Regions from separate parts of the Homo sapiens genome. Here all the other regions are linked to region 1. The links come from fine-mapping of genetic effects on gene expression. A gene starts in region 1. Each other region holds a variant in brackets. All regions are shown on one strand. Distances are from middle to middle.

What was found.
Region 2: its variant is fine-mapped to the expression of NT5E in whole blood (TOPMed, PIP 0.95).
Region 3: its variant is fine-mapped to the expression of NT5E in whole blood (INTERVAL, PIP 0.91).
Region 4: its variant is fine-mapped to the expression of NT5E in whole blood (TOPMed, PIP above 0.99).

Annotation. Positions count from the first base shown.
Region 1 is chr6:85,446,682-85,454,458 of GRCh38, reverse strand. NT5E (5'-nucleotidase ecto) reads right to left here and starts at 4,376. Exons shown (of 9, transcript NM_002526.4): 1 at 3,981-4,376. The coding sequence starts at 4,319. RefSeq lists a silencer at 4,314-4,583.
Region 2 is chr6:85,414,264-85,422,040 of GRCh38, reverse strand. No RefSeq gene overlaps it. Among named protein-coding and RNA genes, the nearest start is that of LINC02535, 13 kb to the right of the region's middle. The variant G/A (reference allele first, on the strand shown) is at 3,708.
Region 3 is chr6:85,373,603-85,381,379 of GRCh38, reverse strand. No RefSeq gene overlaps it. Among named protein-coding and RNA genes, the nearest start is that of LINC02535, 27 kb to the left of the region's middle. The variant T/C (reference allele first, on the strand shown) is at 3,369.
Region 4 is chr6:85,584,227-85,592,003 of GRCh38, reverse strand. The region is part of intron 1 of SNX14 (sorting nexin 14); the gene reads left to right. Among named protein-coding and RNA genes, the nearest start is that of SNX14, 5.7 kb to the left of the region's middle. The variant TTTAA/A (reference allele first, on the strand shown) is at 4,238.

The DNA of each region.
Region 1 (7,777 bases):
GTTAACAAACATATCAAAAAATGTCCAAACTCACTAGTTATTAGAAAAGTACATGATAAAGCAGCAATGTGTATTTTACACCTACAATAAAGCTGGATACTGCCATGATATATAGGTAAAATATAGAAATTTACATGTCCTGTTTGGGGATGGGAGTAGGTGGAAGAGAATGGAGGATGTCAGTCATTGAGGAAACCAGTCTTGTAGTACTCAAAGTATGCCCTGTGGCCAGCAATTCTGCTCCTGGGTAGAAATCATCTGGTGAGACCATCCAGGAAGATATCTGGAGCAGCATTATTTGTGGAGGCAGGGTGTTAGACGCCATCTCCAAACCCATCAGCCAGGGAGCAGATGGGTAAAATACGTGGAGATGGGTAAAATACACAGAGCACAATTCACAGTGATGTATAGGTATAAGGGCATCTAGGGCAACATGGACAAATCATAAAAACAATAAGTTCAGGACAAAAGTAAGAAACAGAAAGGGCTAAATAACAGGACTGGGTATGCCATTATAAAATATAAGCACACAAAGGTTTTGAAAGTGCATGTAGAAACAAAACTATATGCAGTCCATCAAACACATTAGAATGTTGTCTATGTGGGAGGTGGAGGGTGGCGAACAAAGGACCATCTATCTGACTAACCTGTCCCCTGGGTGAGTTAAAGGCGGGGGCCATGGTTCCCACCCTGGCTGCTGCCTCCCCCATTTAGGAGCAATTGGCTAGGGCTAAGGCTGCAGCCTTATGGGCAGGAAGTGGGCTCAGCAGCCAGGGCCTCAGAAGCAGCAGCCAAGCAGAGAAAAGGCACCTTTCTAGGGGACCCTAGAGACCTGCTCAAAGCTACCTTCCCCACAGCCTGTCTTGGTGAGAATCTCACCTCTGGAGGTGGATACCTTCAGTTTTGTGCTGTGGGGAGATTTCATAAGTCTGCTCAATGAGTAACTATAGCAAAAATAGTTTAGGCAATGGTACTTAGGTAAGATGGTAGAGGGCAGGCAGGTGGTAGACTGTGCCAGGCTGTGAGAATCAGATAATCTGATGCACAACCCAAACCTTCCCTTCCTCACAATTCCCCTCCTCCCCACCCAGGGCACATGAAACTCACTTTCAGTGAGCACCAGCAGGGATTATCTCATGTATTCCTCACAAAACCTCTGCAAGATGGGGGTTATCACTCCTGTTTTACAGCTAAGGAACATGAAGCTCAGAGAAAGTAACCAGGCCAAGCGCATACTGTCAGTGCTTCCATGCTGTCTTCCTCGTGCCTCAGGGGACAACAGTCCTTCCACTGAGACAGCTACACTAACTGGAGAGTTTTGCCATCCTCTTCCCAGTTTTCTGCCTAGTAGTGGTTCCAGGGGGTCTCCAGGATTGCCCTGGGTCCTCTACAGCAATCAGGATTACTCCAGTAGGTCTAGAAAGTGTACACCTCCTTGGAAGTTCCTGCTCGAGGGGACTCCTGTGTTTTAGCTGGATTCTAGGAAATTCCTCTTTGTCCTCCATATGCTTCAGTCCTTTTATGTGGCTCCTTTGAACTAGGTCCAGTCTCCAGGAAACTGGAGATGCCCCTCCACAACTGTTTTCCACCCTGATTTGAATCCCCAGTGTCCTAGGAATCAATATGCGGTGAGTGGTTACAGTGGAGGAACGTTTATACCACAACAGCAATAAATTCTCTGAGGGTTAGTATAATATAAACAATTGACAGTGAAACATCTGTGCAATACTGGAGTACAGCAGAGCTTTAGCACATGCTTTAGCACTACAGAACTGGGATTTTATGCACGTCAAATCATGTTTGACACACCCCCAAACTGCACAGAGTAAGTCCTGAGGACACAGCCATCTAACCTTGCCATGTGATCCGCTCCCAATCTTTACCCCCTGCCAACATTACGTAAGTAGCCTATTTTTCCTCAGAACCCAATTCAATTTTCTTGAGCAAAATTTGAAAGAAAGTAATTTCATCCAACAAAAAGGATTCTGAACAAACACAGAAGAGATAGGCTGTAACTTACAGCAGTTTACTCAGGCCTCACCTAGATGTCCTGTCATAAACATTTGATACCATGATTAACACCAGGAGCTCAACTAGACTTACAAGAGGGAAATATTATTAGGGAAAACTAGGAATTCTTCATTCTTATTTTTCCACTAAAAAGGGTTCACACAATTGTGGAGAAAAGAGTGTCACAAAAAGTAAAGTTTACAAAGTCGTGGTTTATATGCAAAATAAAACAAACACATGTAAGTTTATTCTACCCTTCTGGGAGGAAGTGGAGACACAGGGTAGCAACAACTCAATTCTACAAATATTTATTTTGTCATTACTGAGTGCAAAGTATCAGGGAAGTGTAGCTGTGGAATACCAATGCTTAAGAGACCACAGAGTTCTTGAAACCCACGATTCTTCTTCAAATCCAGATGTGTGTGAGCCCCACCTCATCAACTCTGAAGGCTGAAGGATCAGCTGGAATTTCTGCTGCAGGGTGTCCCTGATAAGCTCAAAAGCATCAGAACGGAGGGAGCTTTCTCCCCTTCTCTCATCTCATTAAAATGAGCTTTCTTGTTGTGGGGGGTTGGGGAGGGACCTTTAAAACCAAACAATGGTGCCCTCTTATCATCTTTTCCTGTCCTCCTTTCTCCAAGTTTCCAGAGGGGAAAATAAAACCAAACAAACCCCTCAGCATTGTGCTCTCCTGACCTCTAAGCTCTTCTCATATAAAGTGTACTGTTAGCCTTCTGTATCCCAGCCTAATCACACTTCCCTTTCCCTTCCACACTTGTGGACTTCACAGATTTCTCTGGACGTTTCTCTGGAGATTTCTCAGTTCTTCCTCTTCCAAAGCTCTTTTTTCTTCTCCCAAGTTTCTCCACAGTCTTGCTGAATCCCTTTACTCAAGGCTTTTACACAGGGTTAAATTTGGGTGGTGGTTTTATTTTTTTTTTAACCACCATATATACATCTTGGTTGTACTTATTTATTACTGTGCAACCACCTCTGCTCCCTTTCTAGAATTTAGTGCAATAGAAAAGGCATTACCTTTAACCTAACATTTGGGACTTTGAACTAAACTTTTGCACATGTTTTAAGAGCCCATTATCTCTTAAGTTGGACTCTTCCTAAATCTCTGCCGCCAAACCTACTTTATTGAAATCCTTTGAAACCCAAGTCTTTCCACATTTTGGCTCTCTCTGAAGTTTCTTTCTTTCTTTCTCTTTCTTTCTTTCTTTCCTTTTCTTAACCCTATATTATAGTGTCTGGTAATAACAACATATATAGACACCACACTATGTGTCTGGTAATAATATAGAGACCACACTATGTGCACTATGTACAATTATAATCCTTATTTTTATACAGGATAGAACTGAGGCAAGAAAGAGTAAATAACTTGCTCAAGGTCACATAGAAGGTAATTGAACAGAGAATCTACCCCAAAGCTGTGAGCTTAATTACTCTCAAGCTCCGGGGTCAAAGAGATCTGGTGTCCATTCTTATCACGTCTCCCTTTTTGCGGGGATGGTGCCTGTTAATTTATTCAGCTTCTTCGACGCGGTTTCCCTTTCAATAAGATTGAGATAAAGCATTTTTCGAAAGATCTAGATTGAGATAAAGCATTCTTTGAAAGATCTAGCAGTAAATGAGAGCTGCGTGAGGGATCCGATTCAGTCCCTAGCTCTGGATAACTGTCAGTGCTTCTACGCACCCCACCTTAAGCCCCTCGCAGGCAGGACTGGGTCCTGCTCCTCTAAATACTCCCATCTCATAGTGGGGGCGCAATAACGTCCGTTTAAGACGAATCGTCCAAGGGACTTCTATGCATCCAGCTGGCACACTGGCCGGAGTCTCACTTTATCCCCACATCTCTCCGCGCCCTGGACCTAGGCTTGCCACACTCTGCCATCCGCTGCTTTTCCAGCCCGGCTCCTCTCTCAGTCCGGGACTACTATCCCGGGCGCGGGCTCGGGTCTTACCATGGCATCGTAGCGCAGGGCGTTCATGAAGTGCGCCACCTCGGCGCCCTTGTACACGGTGAACCAGATAGTGCCCTGGTACTGGTCGCCGGCGTCCAGCAGCAGCACGTTGGGTTCGGCGCGGCGGATCTGCTGAACCTTGGTGAAGAGCCGAGCCACGCCACCCATGCAGCGGCTGGCGTTGACGCACTTGCTGGAGTCCTCGCTGGTCTGCTCCAGCCGGCTGTGCACGTCGTTGGTGTGCAAAATCGTAAGCTCCCAGGCGCCAGCCGCAGGCCACAGCACCGCGCCCAGGGCGAGGAGTAGCGTCGCGGGCGCCCGCGCGGCTCGGGGACACATAGCTGTGGCGCGTGAACTGGGTGCGAAAGCGGGCGAGCCGGGCGAGTGCCGGCGAGTAGGGGCGAGCAGCTAGGGCCGGGGCTCGGTGCCCCGGCTGGAGGGGCGGGGCCCGGGTCAAGGCCGGGGCGGGTCCTTCTTCAGCCTGGAGGCCGGCTTGGCGGCCAGGCGCAAGTTCGCGACGTCACCCGATCCGACCCTGGTACCCGGAGCGGCCCTGGCGCGGCTGTCGGCTGGCACCAGCTCCCTGCAGGAAGAGTGGAGAGGTTGTTCCCGGCGGGGAGCGGGTACCGGCCGCATCCCGGCCGGACCAGGGAGCCTGGGCGCCGGCAGTTCGGCTGCTGGTGCGCCGCTCTTTCGGGGGCGCGAGGAAGGAATTGGAGGGGTCCGCCCCGCGCCTGGGTCCTCTCTGAGTCTCGCCTCATTCGAGGCACGGGTTTTTCTACAAAAGGAATGTATGGTTTGTGGTTGCGCTAGCTCATCACTTCAAAGAACCAAAGAAGGAAAAGAGAGGGGGCGGGAAGAAAGATGAGCGAGCTGAGGGGCAGAGAGGAGGAGTAAAGAGAGGCCGGGCAGAGGAGCTCCTTGCAGTTTCGGGCTGTGAGAGCCGAAGCTCACTGAGATGTGACGCTTCCTGTTGGGTTGAGAACGCACGAAGTCTACGATGCTTAGACAAAAAAATCTCAGAAACTAAGAAATCATTCGAATCCAGTTCCTTGTTTATTCACAATTAAAACCTTAGTGATAAAACAGAGGCGACGCGCGGACAGCTCCTGGAAGCAGAAACACGATTGGGGTAAAATCCGGCAGCTATCAGGACGGGAAGGGATGCTGCCCTTCTTTGCTTTTCTGGTCTTATTTTATTTTATTTTATTTTTATTTTGTCGCGTGTGCTTTCGGTGTCGCAGTGAAGTCATAGCCAAATACAATGTTAGGAAGATTTTCCTCTATGTTTTCTCCTAAGAGTTTTATAATTTAAACTCTTAGACCTTTAATCCATTTTGAGTTAATTTTCATATGTGGTATGAGTCCACATTTACTCTTTTTCATGTGGATATCCAGTTTTCTTAGTACCATTTGTTGAAAAGACATTCTGTGCCCGTTTTTAAGACATTGACCTGAGGTTCGGAGATTGTAAATCATTTGCCAAGAAAGGCCATGCAGTTTGGGAGCAGCAGTGCCTGGGGCTACAGAAGACCCTTGCTTCTGGGACACCCTCTAATGTCATGCTTTGCAAGGTTTTGCTCTGTCCCTCTTTGAGCACCTGCTAGAAGCAGGTAAAAGAACTGGTAGTTTTGCTGTTTTAACTTAAAAAAAGAATGATTTTAGACTTACAGAAAAGTTGCAAAGGTAATAAAGGGAGTTCCCACATACCCATCACCCATATTGCCTTATGTTAACAGCTTATATAACCAATGAAACTAAAAACTTAACAGTGATACGAAACTATTAACTGTGTTACTGATTTTATTTTAATTTCACCAACTGTTCCACTAATGTCCGTTTTCTATTCCAGGACCCAATTCAGGATACCATATTGCAGTTAGTTTTCCTGTGTTCTTAGCCTCCTCTAATCTGTGACAGTTTCTCAGTCAGTTGTCTTCAAAAACCTTGACACTTTTGAACAGTACTGGTTTCTGTATACTATCCCTCAGTTTGGGTTTGTCTGATGTTTTCTCATGATTGGACTGAAGCTGTGGATGTTTAGGAAGAATGCTACAGAGATTATGTGCCTTTCTCATTGCCTGGTATCTGTGGGTACACGGTATCAACATGACCTATCACTGATCACTGGGGAACTGATCATTTGTTGTTTCTTGTCTTTTAAACCTAAGCCACTGCAATAGTTTCTGAAATTCCTGTTCTGGGGATGCTACCAGATTTCTGCTTCAATATCATTTCCATGCCATTTGTTTTCATATACATCTAAAATGGCCTTTGATTGTTTATTGCACCAAGTTCAAGCTTCGCAAACTGGCATTTTGAAGTCTCATTTTATCCAGCCAACTTTACCTTCCACTGTTCCTCACACATTCCCTTTGTCCTCATTTCTTCTCTCCAAACCACCATTTCCAGTCTGTCCTTAGGCCAAGGCCCGGGGTTCCTTTAATTTCTTGTTCAAGTCAACATGAAGTTCCTTTGACTTCTTCACACAGCAGTGAGTTTTTCTCTTTTCTAAATTTCTGGTCAGTTCCTACAATCTCACTTTAATGTGGTTTTACTTTTTTTCTCCAGGTGTTTAATGTGTGTTTTTGGTCTTCTCCCCAAGCAATGGAAACAGAGTTGCTGCTTCAGTGGTAGTAGTACTTGCAATTCAAGTAACACTAACTTAAAATCTACTTTAGACACAGTGGGCGATAGTATGAAAGAACCAAGAAGGATTTCGGCTGTCCTGGAGCTGATAATGCTGCAAACAAGGTGAGGGTGCATACAGTAAGTAGCTGCAAAGCCATGAGGATCATAGAAAATTTCCCAAGTCCATGAGGAAAGAAAAATATACAGGCAAAAATTTACATACAAATCAGGGCTTTATTTATTGTTTCATCAGTTGATTAGACTTAAGAAAGTAATGAAGAAAATGTCAAAATAATGCAGAATAAACTTAAAAGTGTGTGGTGCTAATATCCATTACATTGGGAATAGCCCCCCAAATTGAGAAAATATTATTTCAGTACATATTAGAAAACTATTTTCTGACTCAGGAAAAATCTCACTCACATCATTGATGAACAATATATCTAGTGCTAAAACTAGGTTTTAATTTAATGACTATAGCCTGTACTACACTCATTATATAATAGGGTGACAAATACTTTAATAATAGATTACATATTACATCCAATAACAATACGTTATTGATTTATTAGAAAATAAATGGGTATATAACTCCATTTGTCAAATCAGTTCAGCCGGAACCATAGGTTGGCTATGGATTGCAAAAGTTCTGCAAAAATCAATGAAAGCAGTCTGTAGGAACCAATAGTAAAATTTACAAATAGTAAATTGTGTGTAACAATCTTTTATATCAGAAAAATTTATAATAAATATGTATGTATATAAATGCATGCGTTTTTCTTTAAGAGTCAGTTGTTGAACATTTACCAGCACACCACTGGAGCTATCTAATGGATAATATATATTTAAGTTTCTTTTGTGATGAGAACCTATTTTATATCTTATCACAAAGTCTTTAATAAAATATCAATTTTTCTTTAAATTTGCTGAGATAGATTTATTTAGGTGGGCTGAATTAAAAATCTGAGACCTGCTTTTAGGTGAATGCGGGGTGAAAACAGGGACCGGCCAGGCGCGGTGGCTCACACCTGTAATCCCAGCACTTCGGGAGGCCGAGGCGGGTGGATGACCTGAAGTCAGGAGTTTGAAACCAGCCTGGCCAATATGGTGAAACCCCATGTCTACTAAAAATACACAAAATTAGCCAGGTGTGGTGGCGGGCGCCT
Region 2 (7,777 bases), 32 kb after region 1:
TGGCAGCTCATTCTTGTAGGGCCTATCAGGTTACCCAGGAAGGCAACTTCATCATGTCCAGGATCAGTAGTACCTTCAGCAAACGTGTAGCTCACTTAGCTCAGAAAAAAATGCTGATCCTTGGTCCAGCCAATAACCTGGATGAGACCGAATCCTCATATTGGTGAAGCTTGACACAAACAATCTACTCAATTGGCATGTGTGTAAGAAATTGGCAATGCCTGTTCCACAAACATCTGCAAAATTTTGAGAGGAGGTTTTGACTAACTTAACTCCTTTAAGCTCTTACCAACTAGGTGTTTTTTAGGTTGCTTTACGATCAGACCTTCCTGGAATCAGGGGATTGCTTTGGTCTGGATTAGATCTCCTGTATCGCACATGCCACTAAATGGACCCCCGAGATGACATTTCAGATCCTGGATCAGGCCCCATTGTATATAGCTCTCCTCTTCCTCTCTCCCATTCTTCTGTTCCTTTCCTCTTTTGTCTTCCACCTCTCTCTCTATTTCATTACCCCCACAGACTTATATTTGGGATCCCCAGAGCATTGCATCAGTTATCCAGTAGACATCTATTATGTATCAGACATAATGCTGGATCACTGTTATCTTGGATGGTCAGAGGAAAAAACTTTCTAAGGCAGGCGAAACTTGAACAATAATAAGCTAAGATAGTCTTATTGAAGTTTCTTGAAGCAAAACAAACAAATGTTGCTGAGGTCTGGACTAATTCCTCCGGGACTTATTGTTCCTCCTTCTTTTACATTCTTTCTAGTCCAAAGTGAAATATTAGATTTGTAGAATAGATTTTGATTATATTTAGAATTTTCTCAATATAATAAATATAGAATAAATAGTTATGAACATTCTTTCAAGTATTAGTAATTTTCACTGCAAATTGAAGATCTAAACTTAAATTCCCAAGCATGTATTAATTCATTTGAACTTCTCATATTGGTTCACAAAGAAAGCATCCTCTCTAAAATTCCAGATGTGTAATTGACCCTACTGTTTCCTCTTATCTAAATAAGGTATACTGAAGTTGTGAGCTGTTTGCTACATTAAAATATTGGAGGTAAAGGACTATGTTTTAGTTGAATATCTTCTTATTAGGACCTGGAACTAGTGTCAAATTAGAGCCGTTATGTTCTTCCCCTAAGGACCCTCCAGAAACAAGAGTGAATATTACAGGGGAACCAGTGCAACATTGGCCAATGATTTCATTATCAGTAGGAGCTGGGAAGAGTTTTCCCAAAAGTCAGTGGTCAGTTTAGGCCTTTCTGCATAAGTCTTGGCACAACCTCTGTATCCTAGAAATTGGAGTCAAGTTGGAAAGCCTTCCTTCTCCTTGTCCTTGCTTCTTTTGACTCTTGCTTTTATGGCTTCTTCTTTGTCAACTGATTTACTTCTGCATGTACAGACCTCACTTCACTTTCCCAAGAGAAGGCCAGAAGTTCCAACCCTCTGGCTTTTGTCTTAGGTTCACAGCTGTTTTTCCTATCCTTGTCCTCTGCTCAGGTTGTCTCACTCCTGACACAGTTGGATGTGGTTGTTTAGGTTAATGTCTACTAATACCGTCACTCTATTTTGATTGCATTTAGTATTCTTTCTGTCTCTGAGGTCATCAGGAGAACAAACAATCTTTGGTAAGTCATTTCATTTTTCTTATTTTACTGGCATCATAATAAAATCAGGAAAATCCTTTCTGATGACAAATTCGGTTGGAGATAAATCTTAGAGCCATCGAATAGATGGTGTGATGAAGCATCACTGCTATCATCTGAATGCTTGTGCCCTTCCCCACCTCCAAAGTCATATGTTAAAATCTAATCTCCAATGCAATAGCATCAAGAGGTGGGGCCTTTAGGAGGTGATTTGGTCAGGAGGGCTCCACAAGGGATACGTGCTCATATAAAAGAGGTCTGAGGGAGCTTATTTGCCTCTTCCTCTATGTGAGGATGCATAGAGAAGGTGCCATAACTGAAGTGAAGAGTGAGTCCTCACCACACACCAAATCTTCTGGTGCCTTGATCTTGGATGGACATGCTAGCCTCCAGAACCATGAGAAATAAGTTTCTATTATTTATAACTTGCCCAGTCTGTGGTATTTGGTTATGGTAGCAGGAATGGACTAAGACAGTCACAAAAGTTAACTTTTTCACTTGTGCAGTTTTGGAGCTCTCTGCTTATGTAGGTTTGTCTTCTGTGTGGTGACCCTGTGGTTGGTTGTCCCCACCTAGAATTCGTAGCAATATTTTCACCTCTTGGCCAGGTAGATCATTCTCTGTTTAGTTAACCTATTCTCTCACTATGTCTGGATTTTAATGTACTCATTAGTGAGTAACAAAGGAAAAATCCTTGTTGATTCTAATTGGAAAACATGATTAAACCTGTCTCTCAAAATCAAGCCTCTTTTTCCTTTAGGTCCTACAGTGCTGCTGTGCTCATGGCACCTGCTGACCAAGGGCTGAGGTGACAGGGTTGGTCAGTGTAAACTCTGATGACCCAGGACATTTTTAGGGCCCAAGAACTTGGAAAATTTTTTTAGATAGCTCAGAAGCAAATGTTCTGCTCTCCCAGGCCTCTTTGTTCCTCCATGCTTATGATGCCTAGTGTTGCTTTTTCCCCTTTTAAGTTTTCCTGAATAACATTATTGCTTTTCGTTAGTGCACTCCTCCCTACTTTGACCAGCTCCTCCCCACTGGCTGAAAAATGTTTCACATTTTCCTGAGGTCAGCTCCTGGCTGACTGGCCAGGAACCTCAACAGCAGAAAGCACCCAAACAGCCTTTCACTAAAAGGGAAAACTTTTAGTGAAAGGGGAACTGAAGTTTTAAAGCTGAGTGCAAATAGAGACTGACCACAAAATTCTTGTTGCTGTAGGTGTGGCACTTCACTTGTTTTCCTGAGTGTGAGTGTGTGTGTGTGTGTGTGTGTGTGTGAGAGAGAGAGTGAGAGATAGAGTTTAACGTATCTGTGTTTAGTATCTTTTATCCTCTATTTGTATTCATTTACTCATTCATTCTCATCCTCTCTCTTTTACATGGCCTCAGAATAATTTTTTCCTGTTATTTTCATCATTAAAACACAATCAGAACTGATGGTCAGGTGGTCCTCAGTGGCACAGCTATCATGACTGTTAAATATAGAAATACTTCTGTACCTGACAGCAAGTAACTGTTGCCACAAGTCCCACCTGAGTGCTCCTCTGATGCCAAGGGATCCCCTAGCCCTCCTCACAGTCCAGCTTCTGAAGGGCTCATATGCGGCATAGTGAGAGGAGTGTCCTCCAGGATCCTGCTTTGGCGCACCATCTGCCTGCACCCACCCACTCTTAGGTGGTGCCCTCTGTGCTGTACTAGTTATCACATATTTGGATCTTCACCTCCTGCTAATAACAATATTAACCCAGACTGTATGGCTATTTAGCCAATCTTAGTTCTGGAATTCAGCCAAGATTCAGGAAGAAAACAGAAGAAATCCCAGAACCATAAGAATAGATTTCACAAAGTCCAAGCATTGTGCTCATACATGTTCCTCATAAGGAAGGACACTGGGACAACTTAGAGACAAAATTCTTTTTTTCTGAAAGAGAACGAATACAACATAAACCTGTAATTATGAAACTTTATCTTGAAGCACTGCTCATCCATGGCAATGGAAGATGGTGTGGGAGGCAATGACAAGCATGCATGTGGGATATCAGGAT[G/A]TTTGGGAGGGAAGTGGTTTGATTTGGGGAATACGCAGTTGGTCTTTGAAAGTATGACAACAGTGGAGGGAGGATTTATTTTCTGGGACTGCATTGAAATGGAAGGAATTCCTGAGACTGATGAGTCAGTCATTACTATGGGTTCCTCTGGAAGGACCTAAGTCCTTAGCACTTCTGGTTCTCCTGAATTTGGAGTCTGGGTGAAATGGCTCCAGCAGGCCAGGGGTTAGTCCTCTGCCTGTGAGGCCTATTGGAAGTGAAGGATACAGTAGCTACAAGATTACAGAGAACTGGTCAAAGGGACTCAGGGGAATCTGAGTTGAAAATCAGTGTGGCTCCTGCAGGGGCCTCCGGCAAGTTAGCTAACTTAAGTGTGCTTTGGTTTTCTCCTCTGTAAATGGAGAATAAAATATGTCCCTACTGCAGTACCTGCACCCACCCCATCCCCCTCCTTTTTTTTTTTTTTTTTTTTTGCAATTTAAATCTCTGTGGTTGGCCCTGACAAATGTCAGTAATGATTTTTGCTCAGAGAACTAGAAATAAAGTGGCACCTGGGAAAAAGAAACATCCTAAGGGCATATAGCCATGAGATACCCTGGAGCCCCACATGCTCTCTGACCAAGCCTGGCTGAATTGTCTTTCTTAAATTTTTTAAATTAAAAAAAGTTTTTAAATGCTTGAAAAAAAATTGGAAAAAAAAACACCCAGAAAAATTAACATCCATATACTGCTCTCCTAGATTTAAAGCTAGCAGCATCTTCACACACACACACACACACTCACTCACTCACACATTTCCTTTCATAAGCCATCTGAAAGTAGTATGCAGGCATCATGACACATCACTCCCATATAATGTTCTTATTCAACAATCACAATTGAATAGGGATATTTCACATCTAAGGAACATTAATTCAAAAATACCCAACACATAGTCAATAAATAAATTTACTAAATTGTTTTCAGAATGTCATTAGAGTCAAGGTTAATGCATTACATTTGCCTGCTATGTTTCTTTCATAGCCTTTAGTCTAGAGCAGCTTTCCCTTCTCCCTCTGTTCTTTCTCATGGAACCTTTTAAGTGTCCAAGCCAGGTACCTTGCAAAGCACTCCATGGATTCCAGTCACTGTTTCCTGGTAAGATTGCATTTCTGAGCCAGCTTTTCTATCTATGGTGCTGTGGGTCATGGGGTTGGCTTTGATGCTGTGGCCTGAGGATCTTCCTAGGTATTTGGGGTTAGACTTAGAGAACAAAGAGCAAATTTTGTATAGGTTTGAAGACTCAAACTTATTAATACGTCTCTGAAGGACTCTAGGTTTATTCAGTCCTTACTCACCACCACCTTAACTTATACAAAATCAGTCAGACTCGCTACAGAATGACCTCTGAGATCATTTCTAAAATTCACAGCAGAAAAGGAACTGAAGTGTTTGATTCATTTTTCTTCTGCACTGATGATGTGGGCTAACTCTCAAGGCACCAAAAGTAAAATAGAGGTTGATTGTAGACTTGGAAGAAGAGGATTTGTTGTTTCTGTCTTGAGTATTTATGAAGAAATCTCCTCAGCCTCCAGCTTCCCCATAACAGACTGACCAGGCTATAAATTGGGCTAAGACTTTGAAGTGTGAAATGTTGGGGGGTGGGTAGACAGAAAAATGGGCTATCATTGCCACAAGCCACCCAGCACTCAGACAGCTCCTCTCATTTCTCAAGAAATCTATAATCATGGAGCGAGAAGAGATCATTTTGGAGATGATGAAATGGAGGCTCAGAGAGACAGAGATTTGTTCAATGCCACCCAGTTCGTTGGTGGGCATGACATTAAAGCCTGTGTCTTAAATTCAGCCCAGTGATTTGTCTATGATCCACAATGATGGAATCTTTAGATTTTGTATTTAAATGCCTGAAGAAACAGTTTTGAAATGACTAGTGCTGAGGAAGAAAAGAACACAATCAATCCAGGAGATACAAGAGACTCGTAAAACAGTTAAAATCAGAACAGAGTGTTCCATTGTCATATTCTTGAATCTGAAGGAATGGCAATGTGCTGTTCTGTGTGAAAGGGCAGAGCACTTTGCTTCTTGAAAACTCTTTCCTTTCTGACCTGACAAAAATCAGTTTATTCTGACCTTCAGAGTTTGAGTCAAGATACCATGTGTGGGGATGAGTAACATTTTCTTGGTTTTTCATAATGGATTGTTTATCTTTTAAGTTGCAAACAGTTCATTTTTTGAACTATATCTGTTTTACTGGCATTTTCCTTCTGAAGCAATTTTGCAAAAATCTCTTTCTTCCTCCTCCACAGGCATATAAATACCCTTTGCAATTACCACGTGTCTGACTTTACCTGTTTATTACAGAGGGAGCTTTCAGAAGTTCCAATTATACATCAAATTCATGGCCTAGATTGTACTTTGATCCTAAAAGTATAATTTAAGATAATTTTTGTCAAACAGTTACACAAATTATTGTGGTCTTAATTATTATTTTTTGTACATAAAATATATTTGTTTAGCTAGGTCCCCTTTTTAAGAAAATGTATTATTGGTGCCCCATAGAAGAAAGAAAAGAAAGAAAGGAAGAAGAAAGGAAAAGAAAACTTACCATCAGCCACCACCTGCTCTTAGTTAGAGTTCAGTTTTTTTTTCTGGGTTGTGAATTTCTCAATATTTTTTGAATGTTTATAAAAATCTCCAGAAGCAGTATAGGAAGGAAGAGTCAGTGAGATGCACACCTGTATCAGTCAGATGTTTTGGCTGTAAGTAGCAGAAACAGACAAAAAAGAGACCCCTAGTTTGCTTCAAATAATAAAGAAATTTATTGGTCTACATAATGAGAAGTCTAAAAATGGGGTGGCCTTCAGGGTGCATTGATCTTGCAACTCAGCATCATTAAGAACTCAGGTTATTTCCATCTCTCCATTCTGTTAATCACAGTATAATCTTTGTTCTGAGACTGGTTGTTTTGGGGGTCAAAATATGTTTGTCAGCAGCAATGGAAGCTGCAGGAGTTCTTGTTCAGATTTAACTTCAAGGAGAGATAATCTCTTCCTATGGTTTTCTCTAGTGTCAGGAAAATTTCCCAGAAGATCCCAGAACAAACCTCCGCATACTGTATTTACCTAAATCAAGTTACTTGCCCATTACTGAACCCATTCCTGTCATAAATACCATGCTTAGACCTAGTATATAACGTTGTCCCCAGGAAGCAAACTCTGGGACAATTTGTGTGCAGGAGGTTAATTGGCCAGTACCCTCCTATCAACACTTGTGGAGGAATAAAGGAAGTGGGACTGGACAAAGGAAGGCGTTAAACTAAAGACTTAGTCAGTTCCACAGGGAATCCTGGCCTTTCAGAGTGGTCTTTCCTTGCATTAATTCTGCCCCAGCTTTATGCTCGGCTTTGAACAGTCACTGAATGTGAGCTGACTCCAGGGATACGGTGTGGTCTTGGGTAAGGTAGCCTTTGGCTTGGCTCTCCAGGGTAATGCCTAGAGAGGGGCTCAGCTGAGACCCATTAGTTACCAACACTTTTAGCATGGAGGCATTGTTGGGGAATGAGTATTTCAGACCTAAGGTGAAGGCATCTGAGAAGTACACCACAGCATACATTACATTTCACCTCTTGAGTCATTTGGATCTGCAGTCTTTGTATGTCTTCTGGGAATAGCTCCTCTAGAATTCTTAGTGATCTGTGTTCCTGGAGCTTACAAAAGTAAGGTTAGCAGTCAGGATGAATGACTGCCCCTGTGAGGGTTGAAGGATGAAACAAAGTCAACCTGCTACCAAGTGGCTGGTTCCTTTCTTCAGAGGATGGTGCTACTGCCCCTCTACCTGCAGTCATAGGCAGATGCGGAAGAATAGAAAAATTTCAAGTAGCACCAAACTAGCAGTTAGTTTACAATATTTTTCCTCCAGGATCTCCAGCTGGCTCTCAACATGGTCAAAATCTAGAAGTACCACTGTGGAACAGAAAGAAAGTCAAGGAAATACATTTAGCTCTGGCTTGAGGAACTCTTAAAAGAGAACTCTTGGCTGGGCACGGTGGTTCATGCCTGTAATCTCAGCAT
Region 3 (7,777 bases), 73 kb after region 1:
TTTGTATTTTTAGTAGAGACGGGGTTTCACCGTGTTAGCCAAAATGGTCTCGAACTCCTGACCTTGTGATCCGCCCGCCTCGGCCTCCCAAAGTGCTGGGATTACAGGCGTGAGCCACCGTGCCCAGCCTTTTTTTTTTTTTTACCTAGTCACTTTTTTTTTTCCAAACACACTTCTTTTTTTAATTTTTTTATTTTTTTTTTTAAGTTTTGGGATACACATGCAGAACATGCGGGTTTGTTACATAGGTATAGATGTGCCATAGTGGTTTGCTGCACCTATCAACCCATTATCTAGGTTTTAAGCCCCACATGCATTATGTATTTGTCCTAATGTTCTCCCTCCCCTTACTCCCAACCCCCGACAGGCCCTGGTGTGTGTTGTTCCCCTCCCTGTGTCCATATGTTCTCATTGTTCAGCTCCCACTTATGAGTGAGAACATGCGGTGTTTGGTTTTCCATTCCTGTGGTTTTCTTTTTTTTTTTTTTTAATACTGTAAGTTCTAGGGTACACGTACACAACGTGCAGGTTTGTTACATATGTATAAATGTGCCATGTTGGTGTGCTGCACCCATTAACTCGTCATTTACATTAGGTGTATCTCCTAATGCTATCCCTCCACCCTCACCCCACCCCATGACAGGCCCCAGTGTATGATGTTCCCCTTCCTGTGTCCAAGTGTTCTCATTGTTCAATTCCCACCTATGAGTGAGAACATGCAGTGTTTGGTTTTCTGTCCTTGCAATAGTTTGCTGAGAATGATGGTTTCCAGCTGCATCCATGTCCCTACAAAGGACATGAACTCATCCTTTGTTATGGCTGCATAGTATTCCATGGTGTATATGTGCCACATTTTCTTAATCCAGTCTATCATTGATGGACATTTGGGTTGGTTCCAAGTCTTTGCTATTGTGAATAGTGCTGCAAAAAACATACGTGTGCACTTGTTTTTATAGCAGCATGATTTATAATCCCTTGGGTATATACCCAGTAACGGGATGGCTGGGTCAAATGGTATTTCTGGTTCTAGATCCTTGAGGTATTGTCACACTGACTTCCACAATGGTTGAACTAGTTTACAGTCCCACCAACAGTGTAAAAGTGTTCCTATTTCTCCACATCCTCTCCAGCACCTGTTGTTTCCTGACTTTTTAATGATCGCCATTCGAACTGCTGTGAGATGGTATCTCACTGTGGTTTTGATTTGCGTTTCTCTGATGACCAGTGATGATGAGCCTTTTTTCATGTGTCTGTTGGCTGCATAAATGTCTTCTTTTGAGAAGTGTTTGAGTTCTTTGTAGATTCTGGATATTATATCTGGATATAAAAACTGGAGCAGTTTTGAGTGAGTTTCTTAATCCTGAGTTCTAGTTTGATTGCACTGTGGTCTGAAAGACAGTTTGTTATAATTTCTGTTCTTTTACATTTGCTGAGGAGTGCTTTACTTCCAACTATGTGGTCAATTTTGGAGTAAGTGTGATGCGGTGCTGAGAAGAATGTATATTCTGTTGATTTGGGGTGGAGAGTTCTGTAGATGTCTATCAGGTCTGCTTGGTGCAGAGCTGAGTTCAATTCCTGGATATCCTTTTTAACTTTCTGTCTCATTGATTTGTCTAATGTGGACAATGGGGTGTTAAAGTCTCCTATTATTATTGTGTGGGAGTCTAAGTCTCTTTGTAAGTCTCTAAGGACTTGCTTTATGAATCTGGGTGCTCTTGTATTGGGTGCATATATATTTAGGATAGTTAGCTCTTCTTGTTGAATTGATCCCTTTACCATTATGTAATGGCCTTCTTTGTCTCTTTTGATCTTTGTTGGTTTAAAGTCTGTTTTATCAGAGACTAGGATTGCAACCCCTGCCTTGTTTTGTTTTCCATTTGCTTGGTAGATCTTCCTCCATCCCTTTATTTTGAGCCTATGTGTGTCTCTGCACGTGAGATGGGTCTCCTGAATACAGCACACTGATGGGTCTTGACTCTTTATCCAATTTGCCAGTCTGTGTCTTTTAATTGGAGCATTTAGCCTATTTACATTTAAGGTTAATATTGTTATCTGTGAATTCGATCCTGTCATTATGATGTTAGCTGGTTATTTTGCTTGTTAGTTGATGCAGTTTCTTCCTAGCATCGATGGTCTTTACAATTTGGCATGTTTTTGCAGTGGCTGGTAGCTGTCGTTCCTTTCCATGTTTAGTGCTTCCTTCAGGAGCTCTTTTAGGGCAGGCCTGGTGGTGACAAAATCTCTCAGCATTTGCTTGTCTGTAAAGGATTTTATTTCTCCTTCACTTATGAAGCTTAGTTTGGTTGGATATGAAATTCTGGGTTGAAAATTCTTTTCTTTAAGAATGTTGAATATTGGCCCCCACTCTCTTCTGGCTTGTAGAGTTTCTGATGAGAGATCAGCTGTTAGTCTGATGGGCTTCCCTTTGTGGGTAACCCGACCTTTCTCTCTGGCTGCCCTTAACATTTTTTCCTTCATTTCAACTTTGGTGAATCTGACAATTATGTGTCTTGGAGTTGCTCTTCTCGAGGAGTATCTTTGTGGTGTTCTCTGTATTTCCTGAATTTGAATGTTGGCCTGCCTTGTTAGTTTGGGAAAGTTCTCCTGGATAATCTCCTGAAGAGTGTTTTCCAACTTGGTTCCATTCTACCCATCACTTTCAGGTACACCAATCAGATGTAGATTTGGTCTTTTCACATAGTCCCATATTTCTTGGAGGCTTTGTTCATTTGTTTTTATTCTTTTTTCTCTAAACTTCTCTTCTCACTTCATTTCATTAATTTGATCTTCAATCACTGATACCCTTCCTTGTAGTTGATCGAATTGGCTACTGAAGCTTGTGCATTTATCATGTAATTCTTGTGCCATAGTTTTCAGCTCCATCAGATCATTTAAGAACTTCTCTACACTGATTATTCTAGTTAGCCATTCGTCTAATCTTTTTTCATGTATTTTAGCTTCTTTGCAATGGGTTCGAACTTCCTCCTTTAGCTCGGAGAAGTTTGCTCTTCTGAAGTCTTCTTCTTTCAACTTGTCAAAGTCATTCTCCGTCCAGCTTTGCTGCGTTGCTGGTGAGGAGCTGCGTTCCTTTGGAGGGGGAGAGGTGCTCTGATTTTTAGAATTTTCAGCTTTTCTGCTCTGTTTTTTCCCCATCTTTGTGGTTTTATCTTCCTTTGGTCTTTGATGATGGTGACGTACAGATGGGGTTTTGGTGTGGATGTCCTTTCTGTTTGTTAGTTTTCCTTCTAACAGTCAGGACCCTCAGCTGCAGGTCTGTTGGAGTTTGCTGGAGGTTCACTCCAGACCCTGTTTGCCTGGGTATCAGCAGCGGAGGCTGCAGAACAGCAAATATTCCTGAACAGCAAATG[T/C]TGCTGCCTGATCGTTCCTCTGGAAGCTTCGTCTCAGAGGGGTACCCAGCTGTGTGAGGTGTCTGTCTGCCTCTACTGGGGGGTGCCTCCCAGTTAGGCTACTCTGAGGTCAGGGACCCACTTGAGGAGGCAGTCTGTCTATTCTCAGATCTCAAACTCCGTGCTTGGAGAACCACTACTCTCTTCAAAGCTGTCAGACAGGGACATTTAAGTCTGCAGAGGTTTCTGCTGCCGTTTGTTCGGCTATGCCCTGCCCGCAGAGGTGGAGTCTACAGTGGCACGCAGGCCTCCTTGAGCTGTGGTGGGCTCCATACAGTTCGAGCTTCCTGGCTGCTTTGTTTGCCTACTCAAACCTCAGCAATGGTGGGCACCCATCCCCCAGCCTCGCTGCCACTTTGCAGTTCTATCTCAGAGTGCTGTGGTAGCAATGAGCGAGGCTCCATGGGTGTGGGACCCTCCGAGCCAGGCGTGGGATATAATCTCCTTGTGTGCCATTTGCTAAGACCATTGGAAAAGCGCAGTATTAGGGTGGGAGTGACCCGAGTTTCCAGATGGTGTCTGTCACAGCTTCCCTTGGCTAGAAAAGGGAATTCCCTGACCCCTTGCGCTTCCCAGGTGAGGCAATGCCTCGCCCTGCTTCAGCTCACGCTCGGTAGGCTGCACCCACTGTCCTGCACCAACTGTCCGATAAGCCCCAGTGAGATGAACCCAGAACCTCAGGGGGAAATGCAGAAATCACCCATTTTCTGTGTCACGCTGGGAGCTGGAGACTGGAGCTGTTCCTATTTGGCTCAGGTTCATTCATCTTTAATCTTCTGCTTCAAAGAATATTTGCAGTTTGAATATAATATTTTGAGTAATAATATGTGTCATTCTTTGTTTTTTTTTTTTTTTTTTTTTTTTTTTGACACAGAGTCTTGCTCTGTCGCCCAGGCTGGAATGCATTGGCTCTATCTAGGCTCACTGCAAGCTCTGCCTCCTGGGTTCATGCCATTCTCCTGCCTCAGCCTCCTGAGTAGCTGGGACTACAGGTGCCCGCCACCATGCCCAGCTAATTTTTTTTTTCTGTTTTTAGTAGAGATGGGGTTTCATTGTGTTAGCCAGATGGTCTCGAACTCCTGACCTTGTGATCCACCCAGCTCATCCTCCCAAAGTGCTGGGATTACAGGCATGAATATGTGTCATTCTTAAAGTGATGGTCAGAACTGCATGGCTTTTGAAACTGTGATGCAGGCTGATCTCACCCATAAGCATTAATAGACAGTGGCGGTGTGATTATTAACAGCTTTGAGAACTTTATCAAAAATATCTATGATGTCTGAAATTTCTACCATTGACCTTGCCTTCATTAAGAAACATGGAAAAACTCAAACCCTGTTCCAGTAGGGCAGTGTAAATAGAGAGGAGAGTTGGAGTGAAGCAGATGATGGGCCTGGATAAATAGAGGAGGGCAGTGTCTTTCCAAGAAGAAAATTGCTGCTCATCTCCAGCCAGTTTTTGCCATGCAGAAATAGTGGTTTACAGATTTCAGTGGTCTAAGTTTTCAAGAGATGTGGGATGTCCTGATTCTCTGTGAAGTATCCTAATTTTAAAGCACTAGATCAACATTACTTGGGCCAATAAATATGTCTTCAACTTAAGTTGTCTCATGGACTGTCAGTTTGCCATGTATATTTAGGAGTAATCAGTTAAGATACTAGCTATGGACTGAAAGTTTGTGTTCCCCAAAATTCATTTGTTAGAGACTAATCTCTAGCATGATGGTATTTAGAGGTAGTAGGGCCTTTGGGAGGTGGTTAGGTCATAAAGGTGAGGCCCTCACAAATGGGATTAGCCCCCTTACCAGAAACAGATAAAAGCTTCCTTTCCCTCTCTCTCTGCTCTCCCTTAAGTGAGGATACTAGGAGAAGGTTGTCATTGGCACACTCAGAAGTGGACCCTCAGCAGACATGGGATCTGCGAGCACCTCAGTCTGGACTTCCCAGTCTTTAGAATTGTTAGAAATAATTGTTGTTTAAACCACCCAATCTATGGCACATGTGTATACATATATACACTTATACACATACACATAGTGAGACCCTGTCTCTTAAAAATTATGTATCTAGGCCGGGTGGGGTGGCTTATGCCCATAATCCCAGCACTTTGGGAGGTCGAGGTGGGTGGATCACCTGAGGTTAGGAGTTTGAGACCAGCCTAGGCAACATGGTGAAACCCCATCTCTACTAAAAATACAAAATTAGCCAGGTGTGGTGGCACATGCCTGTAATCCCAGCTAGTTGGGAGGCTGAGGCAAGAGAATCACTTGAACCTGGGAGGCAGAGGTTGTGGTGAGCCATGATCATGCCACTGCACTCCAGCCTGGGCAACAGAGTGAGACTCCATCTCAAAAAAAATTATGTATCCATAGTGTGAAGTGTTACATGCAATGCAGTGTTATACACACTACACGCTATAGATAATAAAATTTTTAAGAGATAGGGTCTCACTATGTTGCTCATACTGGACTCAAATTCCCAGGCTCAAGCCATCCTCTGCCACAGCCTCCTGAGTAGCTGGGACCAGAGTTGTGAGCCACTACACCCAGCTGTCTATGGTATATTTGTTATAGCATTCTGAACTGACCAAGACAATGCTCAAACCCTCGAGAGTGACCACATATTAACACTTTTTTGGCAATGTCAACATTATGAGATTATGAGAGGACCATTCCCATTTGTATGTGGACAGGACAGCTTGGAAGCAAAAGTCAGGGGTGGTAGTGAATGGAAGGCCTGGGCTCTGGGCGTGGAAAAGCAGGTAATTAGGGACCTTCGGAGCATGCAGGGAGTAGGTCCTTCTGTTATCTGCATGATTTCAGTGTTGTGATCCTCCAGCACAGATTTGCAGAATCCATCAGATAACTTTTCCAAACCTAAGACAGCCTGATAGATGGGAAACATATTATTATGAATATCGAATCAAGTAGATGAGCAATCTGGGTGGGGAGTTGTCAGATACCAGCATGAAATTCCCCTTGTTAAAGAGTTGCAAAAGGGTCTCAGTATGTCCGTCTGGCTACAGAAAAATTAGTAGAAAAATCTGGGCCAGGCAGTGGTGGCTCACACATGTAATTGCAGCACTTTGGGAGGCCAAGGTGAGAGGATTGCTTGAGGTCAAGAGTTCAAGACCAACCTGGGCAACATAGTGAGAACCCCCTCATCTCTACAAAAAATTTAAAAAAAATTAACTGGGTGTGGAGTCCTAGCTATGTGGGAGGCTGAGGCAGGGGGATTGCTTGAGCTCAGGAGTCTGAGGCTGCACTGAGTTATGATTGCACCATTGCCCTCCAGCCTGGGCAACAGAATAATACCACACCTTTAAAAACTAAGAAAGAGAGAAAAATAAAAATCTGTGTATTTTTGGTATTTAAAATGTGTTAATGTTTACAATAATTTAGTATACAAGTGTATCTATCCGATTAACTTTCTAATCCAACTTTTAAATATTAGTTGATTTTGGATTTATAATTTTTCTAGAAAAATGTTTTATTTTAACTTTTTTGGTACATCATAGGTGTATATATTTATTGGTTACTTAAGATGTTTTTAGATAGGCATGCAGTGCATAATAATCACATCAGGGTAAATGGGGTAGTTATCACCTCAAGTATTTATCCTTTGTATTTCAAACAATTGAATTGTACTCTTTATTTTTAAATGAACAATTAAATTATTTTTTACTATAGTCACCGTGTTGTGCTAGCAAATAATAGGTCTTATTTATTCCTTCTAACATTATTTTGTACCCATTAACCATCCCTCCTCCCTATTCCCCCTCTCCCCCAATACCATTCCCAGCCTCTGGTAACCATCTTTCTATTCTCTATCTCCATGAGTTCAATTGTTTTAATTTTTATCCCCCACAGATGAGTGAGAATATGTGAGGTTTGTCTTTCTGTGCCTGGCTGGATTTATCATTTTTCATTCAGAATTTTACTGTTTACAAATAGCATGGCAATGTTTAAAAGAACATAAGATTAACTACATTCATACATTTAATTTTATTAGACTTTACTAAAATTGAATACTTGGGAAGCATTTTGCTTGGTAGACATTTGAAGAACGCAGAAATTTGAATATATTTCTTTTGTAAATTCAGTTTAAAATATTAAAGGGAGTTAATAAATTGTGTTTACAAATGGGACCAAATGTAGATCAAAGTTTCTTTTTGTGAAAATTAAAATTTACCAAATTATAAATAGAATAATAGGGTTTTAATTTGAAAGCTTAAGAAAAAACTTTTTGAATTTGTAGTTTTAGTAAACTTAATATTAATTCTTAATAAAGTTAGACTCTAGAAAAGTCTTTTTTTTTTTGAGATGGAGTTTACTCTTCTTGCCCAGGCTGGAGTGCAATGGCGCAGTCTTG
Region 4 (7,777 bases), 140 kb before region 1:
TCTCACTCTCTTGCCCAGGCTGGAGTGCAGTGATGCGGTCTCGGCTCACTGCAACAGCCACCTTCCAGGTTCAAGTGATTCTCATGCCTCAGCCTGCAGAATAGCTGGGACTACAGGTGGGCACCACCATGCCCGGCTACTTTTTTTACATTTTTAATAGAGACGGGGGTTTCACCATGTTGGCCAGGCTGGTCTCGAACTCCTGATCTCAAGTGATCCACCTACCTCAGCCTCCCAAAGTGCTGGGATTACAGGCGTGAGCGACTGCACGCAGCCCATATGATTAACTTTTGTCCATGGATTCTTACCTACCTCTTTTGGGAACTGGGTCAGTTTAGGTTTCTAAGGTAGGAGAGCCATCTAGTAGGAGCAGGTTAAACTAGATTTCTGAGGTCATCTACTTATGGTCATAACATTTAGTGTTGTGTGTTATTAAAAAGTCATAGGATGCCATCTGATCTGTATACCATCTAACCTGTACCCTGTATTTCTTTTATGCAGAGAAGGTAGGAAATACAGGTAAATGTTACCTGAGTGGTTGGGTTTATGAGTGAAGCTGTTTTTGCATATGTTTTGGTGTTTTCCATTTGTTACTGCTGTAGTCAGCAAAAGTGATTTTAAACACTAGAACTGTCTTGAATAAAACCATGATTATGTATCCCTTTTCCAGGAAAAATCTTTTGGAAGGTGCCAGATGGTGTATGTAGCATGCTTTTCAGTGTATATGTGTGATTAAAAAAAAAAAAACTTATGTGTGTATTCACGTACACACACACACACACAGATGATAAGAGTATCTCTGAAATGTTGTTATACAAGAAAACATGGGCCCTTCTGAGATGGGGTATACTAGGTACATCTATTCTGAAATAAAAAATAATTTTATATGAAGTTGATCCTTGAACAGTGCAGAGATTAGGGCCACTGACCCCTATGAAGTCAGAAATCCGAGTGGAATACCATGGGATCCATACAAAGTACCACTAATGATACTGGGAGTACTCCCAAGAAGCAGAGAAAAGTAATGACATTACAGAAAAAGTGAAATGCTTGGTATGTACTATGGATTGAGGTTTGCAGCTGTGATTGCCTGCCATTTCAAGATAAATAAATTGAGTGTAAGGACCATTGTGAAAAAAGAAAAGGAAATTCATGAAGCTGTTGCTGCAGCTATGCCAGCAGGTGTGAAAACTTCGTACTTTTTGCAAAGTACCTTTTCATGTTTTATTGAAAATTTAGCTTTTATGTGGGGGCAGAATTGCTATGAGAAAGGCATACATATAAACTAATGCTATTCAAAAACAAGTGAAGTCATTGTATAACAGCTTAAAGCAGAAGGAAGGAGAAGGATCTAAAACTGGGTAATTTAATGCCAGCAAAGGATAGTTTGATAATTTTAGGAAGAGATCTGGCTTAAAAAATGTCAAGAGAACCGGAGAAAAAGCCTCTGCTGACCAACAGGCAGAAGATGAGTTCCCAAACACCATTCAGAAAATCATTGAGGAGAAAGTATTAAATATATCTTCCTGAGTGGGTGTTTTTTTGTAAAAGCAAGTTTATTAAGAAAGCAAAAGAATAAAAGAATGGCTACACCATAGGCAGAGCAGCCCTGAACAAGCTTTTAATGCTGATGAAAGTGACCTGTTTTGGAAAAAATGTCACAAAGGACATTTATTAGTAAGGAAGAGAAATGAGCACCAGGATTTAAGGCAGGAAGGTGTACGCAAATTCTTCTATTTTATGGATATGCAGTTGGGTTCCTTGTCTATGAAGTGTCTAACCCCCGAGCTTTGAAGGAAAAAGATAAGTACCAGCTGCTAGTCTTGTGGTTGTATAAGGAGGCCTGGACAACAAGAATCATTCTTTCTGGATTAATTTCATTGATGCTTTGTCCCTGAAGTCAGAAAGTACCTTGCCAGCAGGGATTGCCTTTAAAAATTCTTTTGATACTGGACTATGCCCCTGGCCACCCAGAACCCCATGAGTTCAACATCGAAGCTGTGGAAGTGGTCTACTTGTCCCCAGACATAATGTCTCTAATTCAGCCTCTAAATCCAGGGGTTCATAAAGAACTTTAAGGCATTACACATGGTACTCTATGGAAAGGATTGTCAGTGCTGTGGAAGAGAACTCCAATAGAGAGAACATCATGAAAGTTTGGAAGGATTACACCATTGAAGATGCAGTCATTGTTATAGAAAAAGCCGTAAAAGCCATCAGACTTGAAACAATAAATTACTAGTGGAGAAACTATGCCCAGGTGTTGTGCGTGACCTCACAGGATTTACACCAGAGCCAATCAAGGAAATCATGAAAGAGATTGTGGATATGACAAAAAAGGTCTTTCAGCATAAGGATCTTACAGAAATTCAAGAGCCAGTAGACATCACACCAGAGGAATTAACATAATATAACTTGATAAAGATGAGTGCTTTGGAACCAGTGCTAGACAGTGAGGAAGAAGACTTTGAAGAAACAGTGCCAGGGGCCAAATGCAGTGGCTCATGCCTGTAATGCCAGCATTTTGGGAGGCCAAGGTGGATGGCTCACTTGAGCCCAGGAGTTCAAGCCTGGGTAACACGGTGAAACCCTGTCTCTACAAAAAATACAAAAAATTTAGCTGGATGTGGAGGTACACGTCTGTAGTCCCAGCTACATGGGGGGCTGAGGTGGGGAAGATCAGTTGAGCCTGGGATGCAGTGAGCCATGATGGCACCACTGCACTCCAGCTGGGATGACAGAGTGAGACTCTATCTCAAAAAAAAAAAAAAAAAAAAAGTGGTGCCAGAACACAAATTGACAGTAGACAATATGGCAGAAGGTTTTCAATTATCAAGACTGCTTTTCACTTCTTTTATCACATGGACCCTTCTTTGATACTGGCACTGAATCTAAAGCAAATGGTAGAAGAAAGATCAGTACTATATAAAAATGTTTTTAGAGAAATGAAACGGCAAAAAGTCGGGCAGAAATCATGATGTACTTCTATAAAGTCGAGTGTGCCTGCCACTTCTGCATCCCCTTCTACCTCTTTCACCCCTGCAATTCCTCAGACAGCAAGACCAACCCCTCCTCTTCAGCCTACCCAGTGTGAAGACAATGAAGATGAAGACCTTTGTGATAATCCACTTCCACTTAATAGTAAATATATTTTCTCTTCCTTATGATATTCTTAATAGCATGTTGTTTTCTCTAGCTTACATCATTGTAAGAATACAGTATATAATACATATACAAAATAAGTACTAACCAACTATTACTGTATTGGTAAGGCTTTTGGTCAACAGTAAACTATTAGGAGTTAAGTTTTGGGGGAGTAAAAAGTTGTATGTGAATTGTTGACTGCGGGGAGACCAATGTATATTGTCTTTATCTGATTTAGGAATTAAAATTATATTAGCCCATTTATTTATTTATTTATTTATTTAGAGACGGAGTCTCGCTCTTTGCTCAGGCCAGACTGCAGTGGCGCTATCTTGGCTCACTGCAAGCTCCGCCTCCCGGGTTCATGCCATTCTCCTGCCTCAGCCTCCCAAGTAGCTGGGACTACAGGCGCCCGCCACCGCGCCCGGCTAATTTTTTTTTTGTATTTTTAGTAGAGACGGGGTTTCACCGTGTTAGTCAGGATGGTCTCGGTCTCCTGACCTTGTGATCTGCCTGCCTCGGCCTCCCAAAGTGCTGGGATTACAGGCGTGAGCCACCGAGCCTGGCCTTATTTATTTTTTTGAGACAGTCTCAGTCCATCACCCAGGCTAGACAGTGGCATGATCTTGGCTCACTGCAACCTCCACCTCATGGGCTCAAGCAGTCCTCCCACTTCAGCCTCCCAGTAGCTGGGACTATATATAGGCTGAGCTAATTTTTTAAGTTTTTTTGTGTACAGACGAGGTTTCACTATATTGCCTAGGCTGGTCTCAAACTCCTGACCTCAGGAGATCCACTTGCCTCTGCCTCCTAAAGTGCTGGGATTACAGGTGTGAGCTGTTGTGCCTGGCCTAGCCCTTTAAATGAGCAGTTTCCACACACACCCTGCCCCCCGCTCCTCCCCTGCTGAAGCAGTTTGTATAAGGTATGTATCTGTTTCATGAAAGTTTGGTAAAACCATTTGGGCCAGGGGCCTTTTATTGGCAACCAGGATTCTAATTACTATTTTAATTTCTTTAATGATAATTGCTCTATTCAAATTCTCTAATTTTTCACTTACTAGTTGTTGCATTTTTATCTTTTAAACAATTTA[TTTAA/A]GGCGGGGTTTGGTGGCTCACGCCTGTAATTCTAGCACTTTGGGAGGCCAAGGTGGGAGGATCACTTGAGCCCAGAAGTTCGAGACCAGCCTGGGCAACATGGCGGAACCCCGTCTCTCCAAACAAGTAGTTGGTCATGGTGGTGTGTGCCTGTAGTCCCAGCTACCCAGGAGGCTGAGGTGGGAGGATCACTTACTTGTGCCTAAGAGGTTGAGGCTGCAGTAAGCTCTGATCATGCTACTACATTCCAGCCTGGGATGACAGAGCGAGACTCTGTCTCAAAAAAATTTTTTAAAAGTTATTTTATATAGATTTTCCATGTATTAATATATAGTTGTTCATAGTCTTATTTTTTATTTCAGTATAGCTATGGTTACTTTTTTCATTCTGTGTTTTGTATATTTGTATCCTTGATCTGTCTTGCTAGAGGTTTGTCTTTTTAATTAACTTTTGATATTGAAAATTTCCAAGCATACATAAGAGAGTGTAAAAAACTTGCAAGCACCCATTACTCAACTTTAACAACTATCCATATTTTGCCATATTTTTTTTTTTGCCTTATCTTTTTAAGAAATGTCTTATAGAGTGGGTGAGGTGGCCCATGCCTGTAATTCTTGCTCTCTGGGAGGTGGAGGTGGGAGGATCACTTGAGGCCAGGAGTTGGAGATGAACCTGGGCAACATAGAAAAACACTGTCTCTCTCTCTTTCTTTTTTTTGAGATGGAGTCTCACTTTGTCACCTAGGCTGGAGTGCAGTGGCGTGATCTTGGCTCATTGCAATCTCCACTTCTTCAGTTCAAGGAATTCTTGTGCCTCATCCTCCCAGGTAGCTGGGATTACAGGCATCCACCATCATGCCTGGCTAATTTTTGTGTTTTTAGTGGAGACTCCCAACATGGGGTTTTGCCATGTTGGCCAGGCTGGTCTCAAACTCCTGACCTCAAGTGATCTGCCCACCTCGGCCTCCCAAATTGCTGAAATTATGCACCTGGCCAGAAAGACCCTGTCTGTACCAAAAAAAGAAAAAAAAGTAGCGAGCCTATGGTCCTAGCTAACTCGGGAGGCTGAGGTGGGAGGATTCCTGGAGCCAAGAGTTCAAGGCTACAGTGAAATATGATTGTGCCCCGACACTCCAGCCTGGGTGACAGTGCAAGACCATGTCTCTATAAAAGATAGAAATAAAAAAAAAATCACTTCCATACAAAACTATAATATTACAAAATTAACAATAATTGGTTAATATCATCTAATAACTACTCCATAATAAAAATTTTCCCTATTGGGTAAAAATATATAGTGCAGTTGTTCTAATTGGTATCTAAACAAGTTGTACTCCTATTTGGTTCCTACATCTCAAGCTTTTCTAAATGTCTTGTAATCTAGAATAAGGGTTGACACATTTTTTTCTGTAAAGTGTTAGGTAGTAAATATTTTAGGCTTTGTATACCATGCTAAGTCTCTGTTGCTTATTCTTCTTTCTAAAAAACCCTTTAAAAATGTAAAACCTTTCTTAGTATGAGGGGCATACAAAAACAGGTATACTTTTGTCCACAGGCCATCATTTGTCAACTGCTGATCTGGAAGATCCCTCCTCACCATTTTTTTCTCCTTGCCATTGACTTGTTGAGGAAACTGGATCATTTGTTCACATTCTGGATTTTGTTGTGGTTTCCTTGTAGTGTCTTGTATTTTAATCCTCACATTTGTATTTTTGGTAGTCACAGTGTTTGATCTATAGGCTCAATTAGATTTAGTTTTTTTTTTTTTTTTTTCCTGTTGCGGGGAGTGGTGCAAGAAGACTTTAGTGATGCCATGTACATTCCATTGCATCACATCAGTGGATATGTAAGATAGGATTGCTTCACTTTTAATGGGTTCAGTTAATGTCCACCGATACTGTGTCCAACAAACTTACTCTTTGGTTTTACCATTTATTTATTTCTTGAATCAGTTACTTAATTATGGGTTACAACATGGTTATTCTCGAATTCTCTCATTTCTTCTGTATTTTTAAGTTTGATTCTTTTTTGTAGAATTGCTTTACTCCATCCGTTAGGTCTATTTAGTTATTCTGATAGATAGTTCAAATTGGAAAAGTAGGATAAATGCTTACTCTTTATCAATTTTTAGAGTAATAATTGGTACCCTACTAACCTCCATTAGTATCCAGTTAGAAGTTTGGTTGTTTTATTAATTTTTTCAAAGAACTAGCTTATATTTTGTTAATTTGTCATTGTTGTCTATTTTGTTGATTTCTGCTCTTGACTATTTCCTTCCTTTTCATGTGTTTGGATTTATTGTTTTTCCCCCCAAGTTTCTGAATGCTTAGCTTATTGGTTTTCAGTGTTTTTGTTGTTGTTGTTGTTTGTTTTTTTTTAATTATACTTTAAGTTCTGGGATACATGTGCAGAACATGTGGGTTTGTTACATAGGTATACATGTGCCATGGTGGTTTGCTGCACCCTCAATCCATCATCTACATTAGGTATTTCTCCTAATGCTATCCCTCCCCCAGTCCCCCACTCCCCAGCAGGTCCTGGTTTGTGATATTCCCCTCCCCTGTGTCTATGTGTTCTCATTGTTCAACTCCCACTTATGAGTAAGAACATGCAGTGTTTGGTTTTCTGTTCCTGTGTTAGTTTGCTGAAAATGATGGTTTCCAGCTTCATCCATGTTCCTGAAAAGGACATGAACTCATCCTTTTTTATGGCTGCCTAGTATTTCATGGTGATAGTATTTCCAGTCTATCACTGATGGGCATTTCGGTTGGTTCCAAGTCTCTGCTATTGTGTATAGTGCTGCAATACACAAACGTGTGCATGTGTCTTTATAGCAGAATGATTTATAATTCTTTGGGTATATACCCAGTAATGGGATTGCTGGGTCAAATGGTATTTCTGGTTCTAGATCCTTAAGGAATCACCACACTGTCTTCCACAATGGTGGAACTAATTTACACTCCCACCAACAGTGTAAAAGTGTTCCTGTTTCTCCACATCCTCTCCAGCACCTGTTGTTTCCTGACTTTTTAATGATCACCATTCTAACTAGCATGAAATGGTATCTCATTGTGGTTTTGATTTGCATTTCTCTAATGACCCGTGATGATGAGCTTTTTTTCATATGTTTGTTGGCTGCATAAATGTCTTCTTTTGAGAAGGATCTGTTTGTATCCTTCGCCCACTTTTTGATGGGGTTGTTTGTTTTTTTCTTGTAAATTTGTTTAACTTCCTTGTAGATTCTGGATATTAGCCCTTTCTCAGATGGATAGATTGCAGAAATTTTCTCCCATGCTGTAGGTTGCCTGTTCACTCTGATGATAGTTTCTTTTGCTGTGCAGAAGCTCTTTAGTTTAACTAGATCCCATTTGTCAATTTTGGCTTTGTTGCCATTGCTTTTGGTGTTTTAGTCGTGAAGTCTTTGCCCATGCCTGTGTCCTAAATGGTATTGCCTAGGTTTTATTCTAGGGTTTTTATGGTTTTGGGTCTTACGTTTAAGTGTTTAATCCATCTTTATTTGATTTTTGTATAAGGTGT